Regions from separate parts of the Homo sapiens genome. Here all the other regions are linked to region 1. Evidence: fine-mapped QTL for protein levels in blood plasma. A gene starts in region 1. Each other region holds a variant in brackets. All regions are shown on one strand. Distances are from middle to middle.

Region 1 (2,683 bases):
CTCAGGAAAACAGAAAGCAAGTTGTGCTTAAGCCCATTGTAGGTGTGGGCAGATGCTTCCAAAACCGTCACCCCTTTTCCCTCCTCTATGACTATCTTCAACCCCCAGCAAAGCGGCCTCGCCAGCTGCTAAAGGGTTAATTACCAAAAAGAGGGCATGCTCCCTCCAGAGGCTCCTCTGGAGAGTGCAAAAACAAAACAAAACCAAAAACCAACTAACCACAACAAAAAACATCTTCCCTGGGAATAAATTTGAAGCTTATCAGGTCTTTAAGCCACATTTCCCAGCCCATAGACTCCTGGTCCCTGTCTCCCTTTGCTTTGGGAAACTCATTTACCCCCAAGCCTCCTGAAATGATCCATGTGCCGTGAGATGCCCATAGGGTTGGGGACTTGAAAATGAGTTATTCTCCCACAAAAAATGGCTTAGCTTTGTCTTTTTGGGTGGCTGACAGGAGACATAAAGTATCACTCTCTCTTTTTACCCCTCCTCACAATAGGATGGAATGAGTGTGGAGAAAAACAAAGGTATTGTGGGACCAGGATGGAGTCAACTTGACAATGGACTCTTCAAGGACACCTTCCAGCTCCCATTCTACTAGTAGCTCTATTTGATTTTGTGGGATGTTGTGTTCCTCCAACATATCCGACTTCTGCTTATAAAACAGAAATTAGGAGTAAGAGATTCGCACCGCTAGTTCAGTGGATAATCATCAGTTCTGAAGCATTAAAATCCTTTGCCAACAAGAACGTTTCTTCTAAGGAAGGAAGCATCCTAATCATGAAGCCAGGGTCTCCAGCCCTCCCCTGTCTCCCTCCTCCCCTCCAGGGCTGTGCTCACTCACATCCATGGACATCTCCCTCTGCATAAGTTTCTTGGTCTCCTTTTCACAGAAGTTGAGCATGGCCTCCCGGTTGTACACACCCGTGGACTGTTTCTCCGTCTGGTTTCTCTGCCGCAGCCCCACGGGAACACTCCCGTCTGGGTCCACCACGTCCAGCTCCTTCTCCAGCTCCTCCATCTCCTCGGGAGACAGGGTCTCCAGCAGGCTGTCGATGTCGGGGTCTTCACTCACCTGCCGGCGATATTTGGCTACTCTAGACATCTTGGCAAAATGGGCTGTGGCTGCCAGGGGCTATCAGAGTCCTGGTGGGCAGGGAAGGGAGAGGGGTGAGCTGATCTGGATGCAGCGAGTGGGCTGAGGAGCAAACCTCCTGCTGGTCGAGGACTGCAGCTCCTTGGCCCTTCTGTGCTACAGGTGCTGAAGTGTTCACTGGACGCAGCAGCCTCCCTGAAGCCCAGGGCTAGTGGACCCCGGCTGGTCTAATCAGCGGCCAATAAGACCCGACAACTGCCAGGCCCGGAGAGGAGAAGCCAATCCCCAAGCTGGGGGCGGGCCTACCTCGCTGTCAGAGCTGTTTGAAACTTGAGGACATTCCAGGGAATCTTGGAGCGCTGCGTGACCAAATTTAGTACAGAGCAGTTTAGCCTTTTAAAGACAAGGGGCCACGCAATGAGAAAAAGATACAAAAATGCGTAGGCTGGCAGAAGCAGATCACAGCCACGGAGAGCCAGACAAGCAGGGACGAGGCCATGAGGGCCGGTGAACTCGCCAGCCCGGGGCACGTTCAAGAGCGTATTTTACTACTCCATCACCGGGTGGACGTATCACTGTGGTCAATGTGTGGTTCATGGACTTCCTTCTACAGTATTTGGTAATGTGCTGGGGGGCTCCCAGGTGTATACAGCTCCAGGAAAGTCTAGATTCAAGATGAGGAGCTGTTACTCCTAACCCCCTGCCTACCCATTTTCTTTCTACCCAGGTTCTGCCAAGGAGGACCTGAAGGCTGAGCATCAGAGGCTCCAGGATCCTTTGGCCACTTCTTAAGAGAGAGACAGGAGACAGAAAGACAAACTTAGAGATAGAGATAGCTAGGCAGGAGAGGGAGAGAGAGAGAGAGAGAGAGAGAGAGAGAGAGAGAGAGAGAGAATAAATCCTTACTGTGTACCAAAACTGAAAACTGGCAGGCTGTTTGGGAAAGAGAGAAGGATCTGCAGAAGTCGGGAAACTCTTAAAGGGCTGTCACTTTCCATGAAGTTCCAAGGCTCTTGGGAAGAGGGTTCAAACCTCCCCCTGTTGTCATCTGTTTCTTCCTCTGCCGGGCATCTGTAGACAGACCTCCTTTGGGAGCACAGAGGCAGGTCACCACCCACATATAAATCCAGAGCACGATTTAGTATGTCTTCAGGGAAACAGAATTCTGGGCCGTCGGGAGAGATACGATTGCAACAGGTCTGGCATGTTTCATAGAAGGGCTTTCCACTGCTCATCCATCATGCTGCCCTGCACAAGTCACAGAGACATTCAATCCCCTGCCCCCCTTCCTCCTGCCACAAAATCCCTTCTAGAAGCCCTGGTGTAACCCATCAGGGTAGATGCTTCGATCTTTCCTGGCATCTTTCCATCCTAAGCCAGAGAGAGACAGTCACTTGATCAGCATTTGCTGAGTCCAGGGATCGTCTGGGACTAAAACTTGGCCGTGCCATTTAATGTCCACTAGTCCAACTTTAGGTTAAGGCTGAAGAGGGGAATGGTGTCCACTGGGGGGACTGAAGGGCAGAAGGAAGGCAGGCAGACTTGATAGGAAGAGTGGAAGAAGACTTTAGGGAAACCTGGGGGTTG
Region 2 (2,683 bases), 49 kb before region 1:
TCAGTGAGGGAAGGAAGGGGAGCTGTTAATGAGAAGCAGTTCTATGGCCTGAAGACCTGGGCTCAAAACAAAACCAACAAACAAAACAGACCTGAGCTCTGACTTTTATTAGCTGTGTGATCATGGATATATTAGTTAACCTCTCTGGGCCAAATTCTATCTGCAAAATAGAATATTGGTATCCACCTCACAGAGTTGAAGGATCAGCTGAAGCAACCTAAAGCATCTAGCTAGTGCCCAGTGCCCAGCAGGCACAGGGGGGTGCAGTGGGACTGACAGTGAGGGCTGACAGTGGAAGCTCTAGCTGGCCTTAGCTCCAGCTCATACCCTTTAGGTCCAGGAGCCAGTGTGTGTCTGTCTCCTCTCCTCTGGGCCCAGTGATTGCTTAGGTGACTGGGGTGACAGGCAAGTGGGTGGAGGGAATGGAGAAGAGTGTACCCTGGGATCTGAGGGCTTTACCCCCAGGACTAGACTGCCCTCTGGTTTTGGTCAGACCTAGCACAGCGATCTTGCTTCCTAGCTGGGGCACCCCACCCTCACCTCAAAGATGGTGAAACTGCTGTGCCTCCTGCTGTTGAGGCAACCTGGAGGCAGAGAAACCTACAAGTGACACAGACCCAAGGTGGCAGTTCCACAGTGCCAAGGGGTGGCAGCACCTTCAAGAGAATGAAATTCAGAAAGATGCCTTTCACCTACACCCGATGGTGGGCATGGCAGCATTGTCAGCATTCCTGCAGTTGGGGCAGGAAGTGGAATTGGTGAGCAGGTGGGGAGGGCTGGGGAAGATGAGGCCCCTCTGAGCCCTAGGGCACACAGATATGGGTGCTATTCTCCAAATAGTCACTCCACTTCTCTGCCTGCCGCCTTCCTGGGCCTGTGACTGCTGTGAGGACCTGGCCCTGAGCCCATGGTTAGGCAGAGTCATGGAATGAGCATCCCTGAACATGCCTAATATAGCCATCCCAGCACCCTGGGCTCCACTCTGCCCCAGCACCCCTGAGAACAACTCTGGCTACTGACTCCAGGCAGCAGGACTGGTTCAGGAGCAGACCTAGTAGAGGCCTGGCCTTCTAGACCTGGACAACCAGGTCAGTGGAGAGTCTTCTGCTTAGAGTTCAGATTTTCCTCCATGCTGCACTTTCTGAGGATGTGAATTTATTTCTTGGCCAACTCAAATAGTGTGGCAGGGAACCTGAGCTTCTAGAGTCCTCCAGGGAGCCCAGGGTTAGGATCAGGACTCACAGTTCAGGACAACAGGTGGGGCACAGCCATTCACAGCTAAAGGTTTGTATATATTATCAAAATCTTATGGAAAAACAGATACACAGCTATTCATACAGCAGCAGGTGGGTGTGAGGAAAATGTCTGCTTTGGCATCAAACCTTCAAGTCCAGCTGCTGTCTGTCCCACTCCTCCTGTCTGGAGCCTACTCCCATCAGGCACTGTGCATCCAGGCCACTGCCCCTGCCACATCCTCTAATTAG[C/T]CTGGACTTTGGGGTATCCTCAGCCCCTCCCCACGCTCCCCTTTGGGCCCCCATGCCTCTCCATCTTTCTGCCATTTTCCCACACAGAGTGCCACTGGCCCAGCAGCTTTGCCCCGTGGGCTCCTCAGAGGCCTGAATCCTGGCCCTGGAGGGCAGTGGGGCTGGGGTGGATGTGGTCCCTGTGGGACATCTTTCCTGGATCACAGGCCTTTTGCAGCTTGCCAGCTACATGGGCCCTGGACAGTGCCATCTTCTCAGTGATGTGCTAAAAGGACTCTTCTTGTCCAGAAACCTGAGCTCCATGTACTAAAGCAAAATTTGGAGAGCCTCAGAGACAAGAAAAGGAAAGTGAGAAGAGATAAGGCATCCTTCCTTGAGCGTGACCCAGGCCTGGACTCTCCCATGGCAGAATAGGGACATCCACAGCAGGTCAGCCAGGGATGGGGTGGGCAGGGTCTGTGTAGCCCTGGGAGGTGAGGCCTGAGCAGTCATGGCATTGGCAGATGGTGCCTGGCAGCCTGGTCCTACTGAAGCAGTTTGGGCACTTCCACCTGTAGGGGCAAAGTAGAGACAGGTTAGAGAAGGGAGCTCAGCCACCTCACCTCCCTCCCTACTGGAAGGACACACAAGACACTGCAATATGTTATGTCTGTGGAATGTGAATGAGGTGTTGACACTGAGGGAGCATTTTTCATTGTCTGTAAAAATTGGATGTCATTGAGTGACCACTGGAATTACAATTGAGATTTTCCTTTATCTCATGATACCTTGTCCCAGATGATGTTGTGGGGGTTGGGTATCCAACCAAATGGACAAACGATCGTGGACTTTGTCACCCAGGCCAGACTTCCAGGGGAGGCAGGGCTTGGAGAAGTAGGGTGTCCAGGGATGGCTCCTGTGTCCATGGCACTGGCTAGGCAAAGGTAGACTCTCCTGAGAGGTGAATCTCCCAGAGACCTTTCGGATGGACTGACCTGTAGGACTTGGCTGGTCCTGAGAGGAGGCTAAGTAAAACGTGGATCATTTTTGTTTGGGGAAATGGAGAAGACTTAAAGGAAGGACCCGAGGCAAAACTACTCTGTAGAGGCCATTTCTCCATTTTAAGGAGAAACAGGCTTCATTGCAGAATGAAAGAGAAGCATGGAGTGAGGTATTAAAGGAAGCTCCTTAAAGGAAGGGTAGAGTCTCAGCTCTAGGGG
Region 3 (2,683 bases), 29 kb before region 1:
TAACTGAGTTTCACAGCAAAAACAAAACAAAATTAAAAACCAAGAGGCATCAGGCCGTGGTGTGGGGAGGAGGGATGGATGGGGCCAGAGGTGGGAGGGAGGGGATTCCCCGTCACTGTGCTCAGTCTTCAGCCCGGCTGTGCTGTGCCCAGGACCTGCCTCGCAGCCTGACCTTCGCCTGGCTCTGTTCCAGCAATTACACATCAGCCCCGGTGATAAACATCAGTGCTGAGCAGAGGGCCAAAGGGTCTCAGGCACTGCCTCCAGCTCCAGCATAAACAGAAACGCCATGATTCATTTTTACCTCCCAAGATGATCTCCAGGGGTCGGAGTGGCGCAATGGCAGCCAAGAAAAGGGCAGCGGTTTGTGAACCTGGGAAAAAAAGGGCATTTTCTGATGCAGTCCTGCGGGAGACCAGGCTTTACAAGAGGAGTGAACGCCACCATCTCAGGGCCTGCTCTGTCTTTGTAGGGAAGGGGAGCAAAGAAACCTTCTGGAAAAGACAAGGATAATGTGCAGATGTGGGTGGCTGGGCACTTACACTGCATGTGTCACCAAACTCTGCCAAGGCTGGGAGGGTTCTTGCCTGCCTTGAGTCTTTAAGGACCAGGGTTTCTAGTGAAAGGGATGGTAAATGGGGGAAGGTGGCCTGACCTCAAAAGCCTGCCAAGAGCCATCAAGAGGCACCAGAAAGGAAGGCACGGTGAGCGGTGTCTGTGTTTCACCTAGGCCCTTACCCCTACCACCAAGGCTTCTGCATTCACTGCAAGTAGAGAAAGACAGAGGCGTTTTGAGGTGAGGGCATGCAACACAGCCTGCAATAGCTAAGACTTCACAGTCAGCGCCATTCTGGCTTCTGCCTGGGGGTTATGCAGAACCCATCACTAGGGGGATGAAGGTTCTTGTGGCAGATCTTCTCGGCCAATGAAGGGTCAACTCCATTGCTCTCAGCAGAACTAAATGCTTTGCCAACTGGTCTGGTGACTCATACTGGGAAGCTTGTAGCAAACCCCATTTTTGGAGAAACCGGGAAATCTCTTTGGGGAGA[TA/T]AACAAGTCACTGTAGCACTCTGCTCTCTGAAGTGCCTGGCTAGTACTTTCTGCTTCTTCATTTTATCCCAGCACCAAGGAAAACCCAAGCAAGTCTGGGAAATGTTGTAAAGATCTACACAAATGCAAGCTATTTGTCCCAGGCTTCTGGGTCCCACTTAGGTCCCGGAGGGTGGCAGAAGGAACATACTGTTCTTTTACTGCCTGGGGCTGTGAGCAGGAGGCCTGGCTTTCATACAGCCCCTCTCCTGTTCCTTCTAAACAGAAAAGGGTACATTGGCTAAAGCAGGAGCAGCTTTATGGTGTCTGACCTCTGCAGTGCTCCAGGGCCCCATGCTCAGAGGGCCCTACGCTTGGTTTAATTCTCTGCTGTCATCGTCTTGAAAGTTTTAGTAATTCTTGAGCACATTTTCATTTTGCGCTAAGCCCTGCAAATTCTGTAGCCAGTCCTAGGCCTAAGAGGCCAGGGATCAGGGATGGTGCAGCTCTCTGTCTTCCCGCCTTCTCCCTCTTCAGGAATGGCTCTCCCACCCCACAGACACTGGGACATCAGCCTTGACGCTTCCTTTTTCCCTCACCACGTTCCCTTCATCCCACCTTCCTAACATAGCTGAGATTAGCTTCCTCACATCCCCTCACCATTGCTGTGTTTGCGGCCTCCATCATCTCTTGCCTCCCCACTGAACCCCCTGCCTCCTGTCTTCCTTCTCTTTGAGTGCACTCTGTCTCCAGAAAGACCTTTCAAAATGTGATTCTGATCCATGGCTCCCATGCTTTCAGGATGAAGTGCAGACTTTGTAGCATGGCAACAAAGCCCTCCGTGACCTGGCCTGTGCCTGCCTCTGTGCGCCCTCCCCTTCCTGCCTGCACTCTGGTTACAGTGAGGAACAGCCACGCTGGGCTCTCTTGGGTCTTGCTGCCCTACCCCATGCTGGGCTCTCTTGGGTCTTGTTGCCTATGCATGCTGCTCCTGCCACACAGGATGTCCTCTCGCTTTCTTCTCTGCCTGGCTAACACTTCTTCTTTTGTTCCTCCTCCTTCTTTTTAACTTTATATGTGGAAAAGTTCGACTGTACAACAAACTAGAGAGAACAGCACAATGAACCTCAAGGTACCCATTGCCCAGCTTCAGCGATTCTCTACATATGGCCAATCTTGTTTCATCTGATGCCCACCCATTTTTGTCACAATCTCACATTATTTGAAAGCAAATTCCAGGTGTATCATTTCATGCATACATATTTCAGTGTGTACTCTATTTCTTTTTTAGGGACAGGGTCTCACTCTGTCACCCAGGCTGGAGTGTAGTGGTATGATCATAGCTCACTATAACCTCAAACTCCTGGGCTCAAGTGATCCTCCTGCCTCAGCTTTCCGAGTATCTAGGACTACAGGCATGTGCCACCATGCCTGGCTAACTTTTATTTTTGTAGATCTGGGGTCTTGCTATGTTGCTCAGGCTGGTCTCAAACTCCTGGCCTCAAGCAATCCTCCCGCCTTGGCCTCACTTTTGCTGGGATTACAGGTGTGAGCCACCATGCCTGGCCTCAGTGTGTATCTCTAAAAGACAGAAACTTTTTTTTTTTTGGGGGGTCAGAGCCTCAGTCCTTCACCCAGGCTGGAGTGCAGTGGT
Region 4 (2,683 bases), 20 kb before region 1:
GACCTCTCTAAGCCTCAGATTCTTCACCTGTCAAGTAGATTAAAATTTACCTCCCCTGTCTACCTTATAAGGCTGAAGCAAGGATCAAAAGAGATAACGTATGTGGAAGCCCATAAATCTTCAGACCCAAGGCATTAGGTTCTGCTTTTATTGCGCATGGATGAGCTGGGGCATATTGTGTGATGTTCTAAGACAGCAACTAAGTACTTACCTACAAGCTTCTGGGAGTAAGACACTTTCCATTTTTCTTGGAAGGGGAAAATTACTTTGCATGACCATTTGGTTATGGTTTGGTATTGGTGTGGAATGTTTTTAGGGTAGGGCCCTGTAGAAGCAGGAGGATGAACCAGTTGACCTTCTCTTCTTGACATCCACCCAAGACCTGAAATTTTTCAAGGCTGGAGGCTTGTTTTTTTTTTTTTCAATCTCTTTCTCTTTTCTATTTTTAATTTTTTAAATTTTTTTGAGACAGGGTCTTCCTTTGTGCCCAGGCTGGAGTGCAGTGGTGTGATCATGGCTAACTGCAGCCTCAACCTCCCAGGCTCAAGTGATCCTCCCACCTCAGTTTCCCAAGTAGCTGGAACCACAGGCGTGCACCACCATTCCTGGCTAATTTTTAAATTCTTTTGGAGAGACTGGGGGGCGGGGTCTCCCTGTGTTGCCCAGGCTGGTCTCGAACTCCTGGGCTCAAGCAGGCCTCCCATCTCAGCCTCCCAAAGTGTTGGAATTACAAGTGTGAGCCACCACACCCAGCCAGTTTTCTTTTTAGGTAGTAACATTTTTTTCCTCCCCAAAGGAAGAAAAACCAGGCATATGTGCTCTATCTATACTGCATACAAACCGACACATTTCCCCACAGGGAGTCAAAGCGAGAGGGAGGTGGGGCTTTGCTCTGCTTGGCAGATGGTCCAATATTAGGAACTTGATCCTCTAAAAGAATAACATGTGTGGCCTTATGTTTCTCTGGGCTATGGAGTGTCTGTGCTGTGAGCTGACCATAAGTCTCTGCGTTTCCAGTGCCCAGTGAGTCTTTTTTCTCTTTTAGGGGCTTTGTTTCACCCATCAGCCCATAAGGCTCAGCTGGGGAAGCAGTGTGTTAACTGTTCTGTTTATCATCTTGTTTGGCTGACTCCATCTCTCTGGGGATGGGCGCCAAAGGCCAAGAGAAGGAGCCCGTGCTGAGGCTCTGGGGATCTGTTTAGGGCCTTGGAAAGTGTATTTATTGGGAGCCATGTAAATGTCCAAATATAGGCAAATGGTTCAACACAGCCATACAA[T/C]AGACTATGATGACATCCACTGAAAACAATGTTTAGGAAGAATTTTAGTGACATGGGAAAAGCAATTATAATATGATAAGCAAAAATATAAATAAATAAGGTAGGGAACACAATTTATGTGAATATGTGGCTGTGCATTAAATGATCTCAACTACAAAAAGAAAAATACATACAGAATTATACACTCAGAAAAAACTGAAGCAGGGAGCCGTAGCTCACAACTGTAATCCCAGCACTTTGGGAGGCTGAGGAGGGAGGATTGCTTGAGTCCAGGAGTTTGAGACTAGCCTGGACATCATGGCAAATCCCTGTCTCTACAAAAAATACAAAAAAATTAGCTGGGAGTGGTGGCACGTGGGAGCAGTAAGCTGAGATTGCACCACTGCACCCCAGCCTGGGCAACAGAGCAAGACCTTGTCTCAAAAACAAACAAACAAGAAAATTGACAATGGCTGATATCTTTAGCTAAGACAAAGAATTATTGGCTATTTTCCTTTTTTTCCCACGTTTTGCATACTGTCTATGATGAGCCTTATTACATTATAAGCATACTTTTCTTCAAATAAAACAAATTTAGAAATATCATGTCTGTGTTCTTTGTATCACCCCCTTCTCCTGCTTTTAAGGCAAAGATTACAGAGACTGGAAGTAAAACCAAAAGCCTCCCAACCTGAAAGAACTTTGACCACTGGAACACTTGAGTCTTTAGTACTCTGGGATCATTATTAGATATTTTCTTGGTGATTTAAAAATTATTATACTTGGCTCACGCCTGTAATCCCGGCACTTTGGGAGGCCGAGGTGGGAGGATCACGAGGTCAGGAGATTGAGACCATCCTGGCCAACATGGTGTAACCCCATCTCTACTAAAAATACAAAAATTAGCCGGGTGTGGTGGCGTGTGCCTGTAATCCCAGCTACTCAGGAGGCTGAGGCAGGAGAATCGCTTGAACCCAGAAGGCAGAGGTTGCAGTGAGCCAAGATCACGCCACTGCACTCCAGCCTGGTGACAGGGCTAGACTCCATCTCAAAAAACAAACAAACAAAAAAAACAAAAAAAAAAAAAGAAGAATTTGTTATACTTTTCAGTGAAGTTGAGGACATGGGACAAGTGGGTTATCACTAAGTAGCAAGTGGAAGAGATGCTGCCATTGGGGTAGGTGAGATGATCCACCTTGAGGAAACTCAGTGTAAGCAAAATGGCGCAATGTCAGCCCTTGACAACTGGAATTTCAGAAGACAATTTAAGCCCTTACTGCCCTAAGGCATCCATTATATAGAGTTAATTTCTTCCCTATGAATTCAGAATGGGACCAGCTAGAATCTTTGGGAGTGCTGTGTTTGGAATGTGTCCTCCAAAGTTCATACATTGGAAACTCAATCCCCAGTGCAGTGATGTTGGGAGC

Which allele goes with the higher level. Positions count from the first base shown, and alleles are read on the strand shown. Strength reflects both the effect of a copy and how common the allele is.
For the plasma level of the protein whose gene starts at base 1,313 in region 1, C is the low allele of the variant in region 2 and T is the other (weak association).
For the plasma level of the protein whose gene starts at base 1,313 in region 1, allele T in region 3 goes with a lower level than allele TA (moderate association).
As copies of T replace C in region 4, the plasma level of the protein whose gene starts at base 1,313 in region 1 goes down (moderate association).

Evidence for each region. PIP is the chance, under the fine-mapping model, that this variant and not a neighbour inherited with it causes the effect. The UK Biobank Pharma Proteomics Project read protein levels with antibody pairs (Olink). The fine-mapping took linkage between variants from a reference panel, not from the people measured, so its PIPs are less certain.
Region 2: its variant is fine-mapped to the plasma level of the LMOD1 protein (UK Biobank, PIP 0.92).
Region 3: its variant is fine-mapped to the plasma level of the LMOD1 protein (UK Biobank, PIP above 0.99).
Region 4: its variant is fine-mapped to the plasma level of the LMOD1 protein (UK Biobank, PIP 0.94).

The regions. Positions count from the first base shown.
Region 1 is chr1:201,945,236-201,947,918 of GRCh38, forward strand. LMOD1 (leiomodin 1) reads right to left here and starts at 1,313. Exons shown (of 3, transcript NM_012134.3): 1 at 845-1,313. The coding sequence starts at 1,105.
Region 2 is chr1:201,896,364-201,899,046 of GRCh38, forward strand. LMOD1 (leiomodin 1) reads right to left here. Exons shown (of 3, transcript NM_012134.3): 3 at 93-2,035. The coding sequence ends at 2,009. Among named protein-coding and RNA genes, the nearest start is that of SHISA4, 8.8 kb to the left of the region's middle. The variant C/T (reference allele first, on the strand shown) is at 1,485.
Region 3 is chr1:201,916,592-201,919,274 of GRCh38, forward strand. All of the region lies in intron 1 of LMOD1 (leiomodin 1), which reads right to left. Among named protein-coding and RNA genes, the nearest start is that of LMOD1, 29 kb to the right of the region's middle. The variant TA/T (reference allele first, on the strand shown) is at 1,050.
Region 4 is chr1:201,925,259-201,927,941 of GRCh38, forward strand. The region is part of intron 1 of LMOD1 (leiomodin 1); the gene reads right to left. Among named protein-coding and RNA genes, the nearest start is that of LMOD1, 20 kb to the right of the region's middle. The variant T/C (reference allele first, on the strand shown) is at 1,278.